2 linked regions of the Homo sapiens genome follow. The protein of the gene in region 1 binds, or shares a complex with, the protein of each later gene. Each region holds a gene or a part of one and is shown on either strand. Other genes may lie near its edges.

Region 1 (7,000 bases):
ATTCAAATTACTTGTATAAAACAGTTTATTCTGTGTTTAGGAACTTGTAGGGGTGAAATGCTGACCTGTGTTACTCTTTCTTTCCATGATCAGCGTCCAGAGGACCAGAGGTTAATTTATTCTGGGAAGCTGTTGTTGGATCACCAATGTCTCAGGGACTTGCTTCCAAAGGTACATCACTTACACATTAACTTCTGAATGTTTTTAAGCACTCACCAGGTTAGGTTCAGGTCCTTAAGTACCTTCGTATTACTTTTAGCAGGAAAAACGGCATGTTTTGCATCTGGTGTGCAATGTGAAGAGTCCTTCAAAAATGCCAGAAATCAACGCCAAGGTGTGTCTGCCTCTTCATGATGGTAACAATTTGTATCATTCAGACTTTCAGGGGAGTAATAAAAGAAGTTGGATAAAACGTTTATTGAGAGACTGTATGGTGTTATTACCAAGTAATATTTTGTTTCTTTCCTAGGAATTAGAAACTGTATTATCAACACAAAGTGATGAGTTAATAGTAGCAGATTGTTCCGTTAGTGCTGTAGTAGAAAGGTGGAGTTACATATTGCACTATCTTATGGGATATGATTTGATCTATGGTTACTGTGTATCTAGATTACTGAACTAACACTAATCGGGTTTTTATTGAATTTAGCACATAGCAAGTTTCTTCAAAGGAGTCACTAATTTTTATAAAGAGTACAAAAGTGAATATATTTCCTTTGGAAATTTTCATTGTGATTAGTTGGATAGGAAAAGATCAGAGTTTTTATCAAGTGATCTTTAAAGAATTTTTTTTTTTTAAAAATGGTCTCGCTGTGTGGCCCAGGCTTTTCTCAAACTCCTGAGGGCAAGCGATCCTCCCACCTCAGCCTCCTGAGTAGCTGGGACTACAGGCATGTGCCACTAGACCTGGCTCTAAAGACATATATGACACACGAAACCATTTATTTTTCATTTCACAATGTTTATTCACATATATGGTATTAGTATTCTAATGTAGTGATGCACTCTAAATTTGCATTATATTTCCTAGAACATCTGAACAGAGCATAGGAAATTCCCTATTTTGCCATTATCAGTTCTAACAAAAATCTTAAAAGCACTTTATCATTTCATTTCCCTGCACTGTAATTTTTTTAAATGATCAAAAACAGTATCATACCAAGGCTTACTTATATTGGAATACTATTTTAGAAAGTTGTGGGCTGGGTTGTATTTATAAATCTTGTTGGTCAGATGTCTGCAATGAGTAAATTTAGCACCATTATCAGGAAGCTTTCTCACCAATGACAACTTCATTGGAAGATTTTAATGAAAGTGTAGCATACTCTAGGGAAAAAATATGAATATTTTAGCATCTATGTATTGAAAATTATGTTGAATAAATGTCAGACTATTTTTTACATAACGTTGCTTCTGTTTAATTTTGTCACGTTCAGAGGTGGGGGGTAGGAGATGTAAGCCCTTGACAGCAAAATAATTCCTTTTGCTTGATTTCAGACAGTTGCATCAGCTCCTTTGTTCTGTGTTCATGTTACACTTATTTAGGTGGCTGAATCCACAGAGGAGCCTGCTGGTTCTAATCGGGGACAGTATCCTGAGGATTCCTCAAGTGATGGTTTAAGGCAAAGGGAAGTTCTTCGGAACCTTTCTTCCCCTGGATGGGAAAACATCTCAAGGTGAGTGTTATAATAAAGATCTTGGCTTATGCAACATGAATGTTCCTCGTTTGCATCAATTTAAGAATAAGGTATGTTTACACGTATATAATCAGAACTTTTAAACATACAGAATTTTGCTTTATAAATAGCTTCGCTTTAAAGATCTCTTATATATTTAACTTTTCTTAATACACAGCCTTTTAGTACACACAAATTTAAAAAGTAGGTAATGCATATATTGAAAAAAAAAAGAAAATGTAGGCGTTTTATCCTTCCATTGTGCTGACCGCTTGGTTGCCGTCATGATAGGAAATTAGTGCTGCTGCAGGAGAAAACAGCTGTCGTAAGCATTGTGCAGCTGCTTTGCTGAGTGGCTTTGTGCTTTATTGTAACAATGGGTGACAACAAGGGAGAGACTGTTTAAGAAGTGTCCTTCCAAAGACTTGGGGGTACTAGGAAAATTGGCCAATTTCTTATAACTATTAAAGCTTTTCTTTAGAGCAAAAGTCAGAACTAAATGCTCTGTTATTTGGATTTTTATAGCTCTTGGAATACATTGTTTTTGGGGAAAAATTCATTAACTGCAAGTTGCAATTCTGTAACTCTCCAATTCTCCGTCCCCCTTTTTCTAGTACTTTTTATACACAATATTTTATAAAGCCAGGTGTTTTAGGAATGAGTTTTTCTTCCTTTTCCCCCTTAATGGAACTTTCAAATATACACAACAGTGGGGACTGGATAATTAATCCCCACACCATCACCCAGGCCTAATAAATAACAATCAGAGTTTTACCATAGCTCATCTATTACCCTTTCCCTTTTTTTTAAAAAAAGAGTATTTAAAAGTAATTCCCAGGCATCATGTTATTTCATCCCTATATTCTTCAGTATATAACTATGAAAACCTTTTAGTTATCTTGTATATCTAGAATGCCATTATCAGATCTAACAGAAATCTTAAAAGCACTTTATCATTTTATTTCCATGCACTGTAATTTTCTTAAATGATCAAAAACAGCATCATACCAAAGCTTACTTGTATTGGAATACTATTTTAGAAATACTCTGTGTATGGAATTTAGTTAAAAGATTGTCAGCATATAAATTGGATAATTATTGGATAGAAAATTATTGGTTAGAAAAACTTAAAACTACTTCCCTTATTCTGATTCAACTATTCTTAACTTGAGAATTGAGGCTCATATTTGACTCTCTGAATCTCACCATATTTAAACTTGATTTCCTTTAACAAATATTTATTGAACAGCCAGTACATACAACTTTGCTTAAGGATATGAGTTGACCTGCAGGAATGACCACATAACCAATTTCTGATCTTTGGGCAATTCTATTATGGTTTCAATTTTGTGATGTGCTACTGAAGAAATTGACTGTGTAAGAAGCACAAAGCCAAAGATGACTCGCATACACCTGCCCTGTGAAGTTGAGGGCTGTGTGGCCTGATTAAAGAAGCATGCATTTGGCCGGGCGCGGTGGCTCACACCTGTAATCCCAGCACTTTGGGAGGCCAAGGTGGGCGGATCACGAGGTCAGGAGATTGAGACCATCCTGGCTAACACGGTGAAACCCCGTCTGTACTAAAAGTACAAAAAATTAGCCAGGTGTGGTGGCGTGTGCCCGTAGTCCCAGCTACTGGGGAGGCTGAGGCAGGAGAATGGTGTGAATCCGGGAGGTGGAGCTTGCAGTGAGCCGAGATTGCGCCATTGCACTCCAGGCTGGGCAACAGAGCGAGACTCCATCTCAAAAAAAAAAAAAAAGAAGCATGCATTTGACATCAGACCAGCTCTGAAATCCAGCCCTGCTACTTACTAGCTCAGTGACCTTGTGCAAAGCCCCTGTCTTCCCTGAGCTGTACTTGGGTTCCCCTTGTAAAATCTCCTTCATGAGATTGCTGTGGACCCAGCAGCCTGTACAGGACCCCCGGTGGTCAGTAAGCATGCACAGGTGATACCACATGCACACTTCACTATAGATTCAGATGGAGGATGGAGGAAGAAGTGGATATTGGGAGGATGGGAGAGATTTCCTTCAGGAAAGACTGGGAGAAATGTGGCTTTTGAGCTGCTCTCTAAAAGATGAACAGTGGGTTGAGACCTGCAGTGAGACTCAACAAGTCAAAACTGAGGTGGGATCTACTTAACCCAAAAAGGTTGTTTATATATCTGTGCACTCAGCAAGCAGGTGGCAAGGGCTGTTGTTTTCCTGTGGGATGGGACTGTGGTAGAAGTGCTGTGTCATTTAGTACCTTCTGTGCTTGTGGTACATGGGTGCGTCATACAGTCATTTACCATGTAACTGCCGTAAATTCCATTCTTCTGTCTCTTCGATTTGAATTCTTGATTTTAATTTAAACTTAGTTTTCATTTGTTCATACTCAACCCACTCAAAATGAGTGTTTTTTCAAATCTATGTATAGGCCTGAAGCTGCCCAGCAGGCATTCCAAGGCCTGGGTCCTGGTTTCTCCGGTTACACACCCTATGGGTGGCTTCAGCTTTCCTGGTTCCAGCAGATATATGCACGACAGTACTACATGCAATAGTGAGTCCTTCCCGCCATGCTGGGTGTGGCCAGGGCTCCCGGGAATTGAAGGGAATTTTATCCATGTTACCTGTAAAGTTCAGAATGGAGGGATGAGTGTATTTTCATCAGTCTGCAGAGCCCTGCTCTGTTTGGTCTGTGGGTAGAGTGTAAATGACAGCTGCTACCTGATTTGTGTATTGACACAAGGGTGCTTTTGTCTGATACATAGTTTAGTGACTTTATTTAGAACATGTTACTTTCTTTTCAATTTGTGCTATCTTCAAAGTTTTGTGAGGATTTTAATTTGCTACTGTGCCATAATCTTACAGTGGGCTTGATGTTTAATTTCAGGTGAAATTCACCTTGTGGCTTTTCTTAGAAAAGGCATTTATAGATATAGTTAGTAAGGAAGTTCTTCACTAAATTGAAGAAAAATCAAAGGCATATCTACCTACTTGAAATTCTTAACAGTAAAAGACTGCTGTGTAAATAAGCCACAGACTTCACGGTGCTTTGGTCTCAACAGTATCTGCCTCTGTCGTTTTTATTTTAGTTTAGCAGCCACTGCTGCATCAGGGGCTTTTGTTCCACCACCAAGTGCACAAGAGATACCTGTGGTCTCTGCACCTGCTCCAGCCCCTATTCACAACCAGTTTCCAGCTGAAAACCAGCCTGCCAATCAGAATGCTGCTCCTCAAGTGGTTGTTAATCCTGGAGCCAATCAAAATTTGCGGATGAATGCACAAGGTGGCCCTATTGTGGAAGAAGATGATGAAATAAATCGAGATTGGTTGGATTGGACCTATTCAGCAGCTACATTTTCTGTTTTTCTCAGTATCCTCTACTTCTACTCCTCCCTGAGCAGATTCCTCATGGTCATGGGGGCCACCGTTGTTATGTACCTGTAAGCAGATGGTTTCTCTAATATAAATTACACTACACTGTGTTCACACTAAGCAGATTTTGCTCTTTTTGTTTCTTGTTTTTTTTGAGATGGAGTCTCGCTCTGTCATTCAGGCTGGAGTACAATGGCACAATCACTGCAATCTCCGCTTCCCAGGTTCAAGCGATTCTCCTGCCTCAGCCTCCTGGGTAGTTGGGATTACAGGCGCCCACCACCATGCCTGGCTAATTTTTATATTTCTAGTAGAGACGGGGTTTGGTCATGTTGGCCAGGTGGTCTCGAACTCCTGACCTCAAGTGATCTGCCCACCTTGGCCTCCCAAAGTGCTGGTATTACAGGCGTGAGCCACCACTGCGCCTGGCCAGATTTTGCTCTTTTTTGAGCAGTCTCAGTTACTGTAGAAGGAGATGTGTTTAAATAGTATATCACTCTGTGGCTGGGCGCAGTGGCTCACACCTGTAATCCCAGCAGTTTGGGAGGCCGAGGCAGGAGGATCACATGAGGCCAGGAGTTTGAGACCATCCTGGCCAATATGGTGAAACCCCGTCTCTACTAAAAATACAAAAAATTAGCCGGGTGTGGTGGCACGGGCCTGTAATTTACTTGGGTGGCTAAGGCAGGAGAATTGCTTGAACTGGGGAGGCAGAGGTTGCAGTGAGCCAAGATCGCACCACTGCACTCCAGCCTGGGTGACAGAGCAAGACCCTGTCTTAGAATAAATACATAATAAATAGTATGTATTCTGGCACTTTCGATACAAGGAATTCATGGCTTGGTTGTATGGTCCCAAGAACATATCAATCCTGTGTTAATATAAGAATATTATCTTGTCCTCTAGATAAGCTACCTTACCTTCCAGGCTCACAAACCACAAGTATGTAGCCATACTGAGGCATGGAACAGAAAACTGTATTTGTTTTGAATGAGAACACATTTGCCTTTATCAGACCACAGCTGCCTTCCAGGGTAAAGTCAGGCACTGACTGTTAGCATGGCCCTGAAAGGCAAGGGAACCTTCACATACCTGACATTTGGTTTTAGCTGTGGCCCGAAGCAGTAGTTCTCAACTGGGGGTGGTTTTGTACCCTCTCTCCCCAGGGGACATTTGGCAATGTGTAGATATTTTTGGTTGTCACATCTAGGGGAAGTGGTCCTGCTGGCGTCTAGTTAGTAGAAGCAAGAGTGCTGCTGAATTTTCTACAATGCACAGGACAACTCCCACAGTAAATATTTGGCTCAATATGTCACTAGTGCCAAAGCTGAGAAAGCCTGGCCTAGAGTGATGGGTCTTCGTGGTTGAAACTAAAAGAAGAAATTTTCCTGTATAGTAAAAATGGATTTTTATTTTAGCTTTTAAAAATAAAAAAGGAATAATTAGAATATAATGAACACTCAAATATCCACAATTAGTCATTGTTAATATTTTATTATATTTAAGACTTGGGATTTAATTGGTTTCTTCAAATAAAACGTTTAGTTAATATTTTCTGTAGTCTCTAGAATCATATATTTAAAAGACCAAATGTAGGTTGTCATTATGTTATATATAATTATAGCTTTGTAGGTATATGCATTCTCCCCGCTCTGTTCAGGTTTTCAAGGGTAAGGTTTAGTTCGTCATAAGCATTTATTGAGTGCATACTATGTGCCAGGTGCTGTTTATATGGCTGGGTGTGCAATGATGAATAAAACACAGTCCCTGCCTTCAAGGACCTTACAGACTGGTGAGAATGTCTGGGAGACAGTGTGATCAAATGCCTCTGTAGATGGGTCTTGCAGTGAGCTTATCAGGGTGCTGCTGTGATTAGAGGTGGGGAGCCTTGGATTCTTGAGTAAGTCTCACTGTGACATCAGCTAAGATGGACTTTTATGTGCTTCCTTTGAAGGCATCACGTT
Region 2 (7,732 bases), on another chromosome or scaffold:
TATGCATCTAACAAAATTGCACTTGCATTCCACAAATTTATACAAAAATAATGTTGAATCAAAAAACATTATAGTTTGGTGGAACATAGAATTATAGGTTGGAAATAATTTCCCTAAAAAATTTGAAGATATTTTATATTATTTTCTAGCTCCCAATGTATTTTTTCTTTTTTAAGAGACAGGGTCTCACTCTGTCACCCAGGCTGGTGTGCAGTGGCGTGATCATGGCTGACTGCAGCCTTGACCTCCTGGGCTCAAGCAATACTCCCACCTCAGCCTCCCAAGAAGCTGGGATCACAGGCACTCGCTACCATGCCCTACTATTTTTTTTAAATTTTTTTTTGTAAAGATGCAGTCTCCCTATGTTGCCCTGGCTGGTCTCAAACTCTTGGGCTCAAGTGATCCTCCCATCTTGGCCTCCCAAAGTGCTGGGATTAGAGGAGTGAGCCACCACACTCATTCCTCCCAATGTTGATGAGTTTGTAAGCCCAATGCTGTTCTGATAAGGAATCAATTAAATACAATTAAAAATTTTATTTTTGTGTGGGCACACAGTGGTGTATATATGTATATATTTATGGGGTACATGAGATACTCTGATACAGACATGCAATAAGTAATAATCACATCATGAAAAATGGAGTATCCATCCCCTCAAGAATTTATCCTTTGTGTTACAAACAATCCGATTATACCCTTTTAGTTATTTTAAAATGTACAATTAAATTATTATTGACTATAGTCACCCTGTTATGCTATCACATACTAGGTCTTTTTCATTATTTCTATGTTTTATACCCATTAGCCATCCCCACTTCTCCTCAACCCCACACTACTCTTCCCAGCCTTTGGTAACCATCCTTCTACTCTCTATCTCCGTGAGTTCAACTGCTTTGGTTTTTAGCTCTCACAAATAAGTGAGAACATGCTAAGTTTGTCTTTCTGTGCCTGGCTTATTTCATATGACATAATGACCTCCAGTTTCATCCACGTTGTTGCGAGTTACAGGATCTCATTCTTTTTCATGGCTGAATAGTAAGTACTCCTATGTGTATACGTACTACATTTTTTTAAATCCATCTGTTGATGGACACTTAGTTTGCTTCCAAATTTTAGCTATTGTGAATGGTGCTGCAACAAAAATGGGAGTACAGATATCATTTCGATATACTGATTTCCTTTCTTTTGGGTATATACCCATCAGTGGGATTGCTGGATTGTATGGTAGCTCTATTTTTAGTTTTTTGAAGAAATTCCAAACTGTTCTCCATAGTGGTTGTACTAATTTACATTCACACCAACAGTGTACGAGGGTTCCATTTTCTCCACATCCTCTCCAACATTTGTTATTGCCTGTCTTTTGGATAAAAGCCATTTAAACTGGGGTAAGATGATATCTCATTGTAGTTTTGATTTGCATTTCTCTGATGATCAATTATGTTGAGTACCTTTTCATACACTTGTTTGCCATTTGTATGTCTTCTTTTGAGAAATGTCTATTCAGATCTTTTGCCCATTTTTAAATCAGATTATTAGATTTTTTTTTCTTTTGTTTGTGCTCCTTATATATTCTGGTTATTACTCCCTTGTCAGACAAGTAGTTTGCAAATATTTTCTCCCATTCTGTGGCTTGTCTCTTCACTTTGTTGTTTTCTTTGCTGTGCAGAAGCTTTTTAACTTGATGTGATCCTGTTTGTCCATTTTTGCTTTGGTTACCTGTGCTTGTGGGGTATCTCAAGAAATTTTGCCCAGGCCAATGTCCTGGAGAGGCTCCTCAATGTTTTCTTGTAGTAGTTTAATAGTTTCAGGTCATAGATTTAAGTCTTTTTTTTTTTTTTTTTTTTTTTTTTTTTTTTGAGACAGAGTCTCGCTCTGTCACCCAGGCTGGAGTGCAGTGGCGCGATCTCGGCTCACTGCAAGCTCGGCCTCCCAGGTTCATGCCATTCTCCTGCCTCAGCCTCCCGGATAGCTGGGACTACAGGTGCCTGCCACCACACCTGGCTAATGTTTTGTATTTTTAGTAGCGACAGGGTTTCACCGTGTTAGCCAGGATGGTCTCAATCTCCTGACCTCGTGATCCACCCACCTCGGCCTCCCAAAGTGCTGGGATTACAGGCATGAGCCATTGCGCCCAGCCAGATTTAAGTCTTTAAGCCATTTTGATTTGATTTTTATATATGGTAAGAGATAGGGGTCAAGTTTTATTCTTCTGCATAGGGATATCCAGTTTTCCCTGTATCATTTATTGAAGAAACTGTCTTTCCCCCAGTGTCTGTTCTTGGCACCTTTGTCAAAAATGAGTTCAATACAGATATATGGATTTGTTTCTGGATTCTGGATTCCATTCCATTGGTCTGTGTCTGTTTTTATGCCAGTACCATGCTGTTTTGATTATTATAGCTCTGCAGTATAATTTGAAGTCAGGTAATGTGATTCCTCCAGTTTTGTTCTTTTTGCTCAGGATAGCTTTGGCTATTCTAGGTCTTTTGTGGTTCCATTCTAGGTCTCTTAGGGTTGTTTTTTCTATTTCTGTTAAGAATGTCATTGGTATTTTGATAGGGATTGCATTGAATCTATAGATTGCTTTGGGTAGCAATGGTGTTCTGATTCTTAATCCTAATGTTATACTGATTTTTAAAAAATGTATTAACAAAGCAACAACATGAAGTCACATGTTCTGATTTTTTTTGTCTGTATATGCAACTTGTTCTTTCTCTCTGGAAGCTTTTAGAATTTTTTTCTCTGTGTCCAGTACTCTGAGATTCTATAATGATGTGTCTTGGTGTGGGTTTGATTTGTTGTTCTGGATACTTAGGGTGCCTGTTCAATTTGGAGACTGTTCTTCAGTTTGGGATAGTCCTTTTAAATAGTTTTTTTGATGATCTCTTCTGATTCTCTGTTCTCTTTCTGGAACTCTAATTTAGAACTCTTATTTAGTCCAGACCTTCTGGACTGATCCTTTATTTTTATGTTTTCTCCTAAAGCAGAACAAATTTGATCTTCTTCAACTTTATCCCCCAGCCTTTTTATAGAATTTTTATTTCTGTAACATGGTTTTAGTTTCCAAGAGCTCTTTTTGCTTATCCGAATAGTAGTTACTCTCAAGTAGTTTCCTGTTGTTATTTTATGAATGCTCTATAATATCTCTTTGAGAAGTCTGATGATGGATTATTTTTAAATGCTTTGTTGTTTCAGACGGAGTCTAGCTCTGTGGCCCAGGCTGGAATGCAGTGCCGCAATCTCAGCTCACTGCAACTTCCGCCTCCCAGGTTCAATCAATTCTTCTGCCTCAGCCTCCTGAGTAGCTGGAACTATAGGCGCGTGCCACCATGCCCAGCTAATTTTCGTATTTTTAGTAGATACGGGGTTTCACCACGTTAGCCAGGCTGGTCTTGAGCTCCTGACCTCAAGTGATCCGCCCGTCTCGGACTCCCACAGTTTTGGGATTACAGGCGTAAGCCACCGTGCCCGGCCTATTTTTAAATTTTTTATTTTTAGTGTTTTTTCCCCTCCCTTGCAATTTATGTTTCCTCTCATTTGCTTTTCCCTTCTTGTTTGTTTCTTACTTGTATATTAAAGTCCTTCCTTAAATGTCTAATGATCTCTGGCTATTTATTTTGAAGAGTAAGAACACTAAAAAGCTGATTGGAAAGTGGAATGAGGGCTGGGGCACGTAGGCCAAAGTGTTACATGTGGAATTCATTCTAGTTATCTATATCATTAAGAGAACTCTGATAAGGGTATCTTTGGGATTTTTCGTTTTGGCTGGTGAGATTCCCCAGAGAGGGTTTTCCAAAGGTATAATCAGCCTCTTGTTTACCTTTGTTTCGTAATAAATATTCTCAAGTTTGCTAAACCAGTTAACATTCTTCTGTTTGATTTCCAGCTTCCAAAATGTTGCTGTTGTTGTCTCCTTTCCCTTTCTTACGGCCTGGAGAGTAATACATAATTTCACCTTAACTGGAAGCCCATGTATGCATGTATGTATGTATGTATGTATGTATGTATGTATGTATGTATGTACGTACTTATTTGAGACGGGGTTTCGCTGTGTTGCGCAGGCTGCACTTGAACTCCTGGGCTCAGGAGATCCTCCTGCCTCAGCCTCCGGAGTAGCTGATACCACAGGTGCGTGCCACCACGTCTGGCTGCCCGCATTATTTCTCTAGGATTTTTACTGGAGGTCATTTTACTGGAGGTCAACTGCAGGATCGTATAGGAAGGTTTTGACACAAATTTTCTGATTGCCTCAAAGCAATATGTATATATGAAAAGAGGTAAGCGTCCGTATAATAATTGTTTGTTTTGCAACAAGCATTTAATAACTTTCACCGGCACTGCGCACGCTACCTATCTGCCTCAATACTCCGCCCGGCGGTGGGCAGGATATAATGCAAGAGACGTCTGAAAAAGCAATGAGATGCGCATGACAGCTGGGCGAAGACAGAGGGCAAACTTAAAAGGACCAAGCGCATAGACCACGCCTCTGAAATTGGGGAACGAGGAGGGGTTTGATCTTGTCGATGATTGGCTGGTCTCTGACCAATCACGGACAGCGATTGATATTTCTAATCGTCGTGATCCACCTCCCCAGGACCTTGGAGCCACGTTTACAAATAGGAATAGGGTACGTGGGAGGGATAGAACGTACAGCCAATAAAATCATGTGGCGCCGATGGGCGTGTTGAGGCCGCTGCCTGGCTTAGGGCGGAAACAGATTCTCTGCATAAGAAGGGGAACGAAAGATGGCGGCGGAAACGCTGCTGTCCAGTTTGTTAGGACTGCTGCTTCTGGGACTCCTGTTACCCGCAAGTCTGACCGGCGGTGTCGGGAGCCTGAACCTGGAGGAGCTGAGTGAGATGCGTTATGGGATCGAGATCCTGCCGTTGCCTGTCATGGGAGGGCAGGTGAGAGGCGTATAAGGGGCGAGGGTCTGGGCAGAAGAGGAAGCGGGTAAGAGATAGAGGAAGAAGGGCAGCTCCGGAGTCTGGGGCTGGAGCCTACGGGGAATCGGGAAGAGTAGGTATTGCTTTTACGGTGACCCCTGGGGGTCGCAGACTGAGACCAATTCTCTGGGGGCCAGGAATTGGGAGAGGTGGGGCTTCCCGCTGTCAACCTTCAGGTCTCAGTTTATGATCGAAACACCCGGACTCCGCCCCCGTGGAGAAATGGGAGCGCCCTCTCCTCTCACCCACTAAATACAGCTGGAGGGCTTATGGCTTATTCTGTCTTCGACTGATCTCTTCCCCAGGGTTTGAAGAGGGATTTCGTTGTTCTCCCTGATCCCAGCCTTTCTTTGCTTCCTTGCCCCCCGACCCTCCCTTCTTTCCCAGAGCCAATCTTCGGACGTGGTGATTGTCTCCTCTAAGTACAAACAGCGCTATGAGTGTCGCCTGCCAGCTGGAGCTATTCACTTCCAGCGTGAAAGGGAGGAGGAAACACCTGCTTACCAAGGGCCTGGGATCCCTGAGTTGTTGAGCCCAATGAGAGATGCTCCCTGCTTGCTGAAGGTGAAAGGGACTGGGTTAGATAGAATGAGGGCTTGGAAACTAGCAGTTCATCCAAGAACTGGAGTCCACTGAATGAGGCAGGATCTAGGGGACCTGTAGTGGTTAAGAAGACCACTGGAGGAGTAGACAGATTACACGGACAGGAAAGAAGCAAAGAATCCTGCAACCACTGATGACACTTTGCTGAACGTAGGAGCAGGTTAGGATAGAAGATCTCAGAAAAGGGCTAAAGCAAGATTGAGGGTCTGCGTGGGGTAGGAGGAGTACTTCCTTAAGCCTACTTGCTAAAGTCACCCCCTGCCCTATCACTCTGCTCCAGTATCCTGTTTTATTTTCATCGTAGCACTTTTCATGATCTGAAATCATATTTACTGAATCAGTTTGTTTATTTTCGGTCTGATTCCCCGCATTAGAGTGTAAACTCCATGAGGTCAAAGAATTAATCTTGTTCACAGTTGTATTCCCAGTGGCCAGAACAGTGCCAGGAATGTTCAAGAAGTTCAATTAATATTTAATTTTGGGTTCTTCTATGTTTCCCTAATATAATTGCTTCAGGGATACCATAATTTCTTATCTTTATGGAGGGCAAATAAGGATTTAAAAAATCTTTTAAAAGGGAGGAATGGAAAGACCACAAGTGGAAAACAGACTTTAGAGATATCTCTCCAAGTCACAGAAGGAAAGCAGCCCTCCCTCCTTACTGAAAGTCTGGAGAATTGAGAGTGGAAGTGAAGGGAAGAGAATTGAGTGTGTAAGTAGATGAGAGGTTATGTGTCTTGGAGCCAGGAGACTCTGGTTCCAAGAAAAGATGTCTGCACTCCATCCCCCTGATTGTTTATTTTTTAATTGTCAGACAAAGGACTGGTGGACATATGAATTCTGTTATGGACGCCACATCCAGCAATACCACATGGAAGGTAACTCACTCCTATATTTTCCTTAAGCCCTTAGTGTCATATCATGGAAGTTCCCCAGTTCCCTCCTCCTCCTCCTCCTCTTAAGAGTAACAGTGCTTCACTGTGGCTTCCCTTGCAGATTCAGAGATCAAAGGTGAAGTCCTCTATCTCGGCTACTACCAATCAGCCTTCGACTGGGATGATGAAACAGCCAAGGTGGCAAGAGTGTGGGATTCAGGAAGAAAGGGTTCTGGCCACCGGCTGAGAGCCCTGACAAGAAGGGGAGGGTCAAGATTAGCTGATCTGTTTCTTGGGGCTTGGTGGCCATTAGGACAAAGTTTCCTGGGGCCTGGGGGCACAGGCCATTCTTTTGTCTCTTTGGGGACGCAGTGCCATCCTTCCTCTTTGCTATCTTTCTCATGTCCCCCATTCCTGCCTCATGTCTTCTCCAGGCCTCCAAGCAGCATCGTCTTAAACGCTACCACAGCCAGACCTATGGCAATGGGTCCAAGTGCGACCTTAATGGGAGGCCCCGGGAGGCCGAGGTTCGGGTGAGTCTTGAGAGAGGGAAGTTGACACTCCCACAGGGACAGTTCAGATTCTAAGGGAAGAGGGTTGCATCTTATAGTCGGGGCGGGGGCGGGGGGGGTCCCCTCCCAGACCCTAAATCCAAAGTTTAAAACATATTTCCAGCCGGGCGCAGTGGCTTATGCCTGTAATCCCAGCACTTTGGGAGGCCGAGGCGGGCAGATCACCTGAGGTCAGGAGTTCAAGACCAGCCTGACCAATATGGTGAAACCCCATCTCTACTAAAAATACAAAAATTAGCCGGGCGTGGTAGCGGGTGCCTATAGGCCCAGCTACTCGGGAGGCTGAGACAGGAGAATTGCTTGAACCTGGGAGGCGGACGTTGCAGTGAGCCGAGGTCGTGCCACTGTGCTCCAACCTGGGTGACAGAGTGAGACTCTGTCTCAAAAAAGAAAAGAAAAAAAAAAACCCACATTATTTCCAGGCCGGGCACGGTGGCTCACGCCTGTAATCCCAGCACTAGATATCTCTCAAAACTCTCCTATGCTTTCTTGTGGTCGGTACCTTCACTCTCGCCTGCATCCCTGCAAACAGCTTCTTTACAAGTGCTTCTCATCTAGTGGTCCTTAGCTGAGTGGAGGCAGGCAAATATAGAATGCAAAAAGTTCCTTGGGTGATTCTCATGTATTCACAAATATACACACCTGTAAAGAATTACATGACACCTGCCAGAGTTATCTTTCCATAATGCAGATTTGTACCTGCAGTTGTGTGCTGGTAAGTGTTGGACCCCCAGAT

What was found. The genes of interacting proteins can lie anywhere in the genome.
Region 2: HERPUD1 (region 1) and OS9 share a complex: the UniProt entries of both Homo sapiens proteins name them as parts of the HRD1 complex.

What each region holds. Positions count from the first base shown.
Region 1 is NC_000016.10:56,935,142-56,942,141, forward strand, and holds part of HERPUD1 (homocysteine-responsive endoplasmic reticulum-resident ubiquitin-like domain member 1 protein), read left to right. Parts: intron 1-93; coding exon 94-171; intron 172-259; coding exon 260-334; coding exon of another isoform or gene 335-336; exon of another isoform or gene 337-350; coding exon of another isoform or gene 351-356; intron 357-1,545; coding exon 1,546-1,676; intron 1,677-4,095; coding exon 4,096-4,218; intron 4,219-4,753; coding exon 4,754-5,104; exon of another isoform or gene 5,105-5,260; intron 5,261-5,724; exon of another isoform or gene 5,725-6,990; coding exon 6,991-7,000. UniProt on the Homo sapiens protein: Component of the endoplasmic reticulum quality control (ERQC) system also called ER-associated degradation (ERAD) involved in ubiquitin-dependent degradation of misfolded endoplasmic reticulum proteins.
Region 2 is NC_000012.12:57,689,417-57,697,148, forward strand, and holds the start of OS9 (protein OS-9 isoform 1 precursor), read left to right. Parts: upstream 1-4,715; 5' UTR 4,716-4,745; coding exon 4,746-4,907; intron 4,908-5,333; coding exon 5,334-5,510; intron 5,511-6,363; coding exon 6,364-6,427; intron 6,428-6,545; coding exon 6,546-6,622; intron 6,623-6,858; coding exon 6,859-6,957; intron 6,958-7,732. UniProt on the Homo sapiens protein: Lectin component of the HRD1 complex, which functions in endoplasmic reticulum (ER) quality control and ER-associated degradation (ERAD).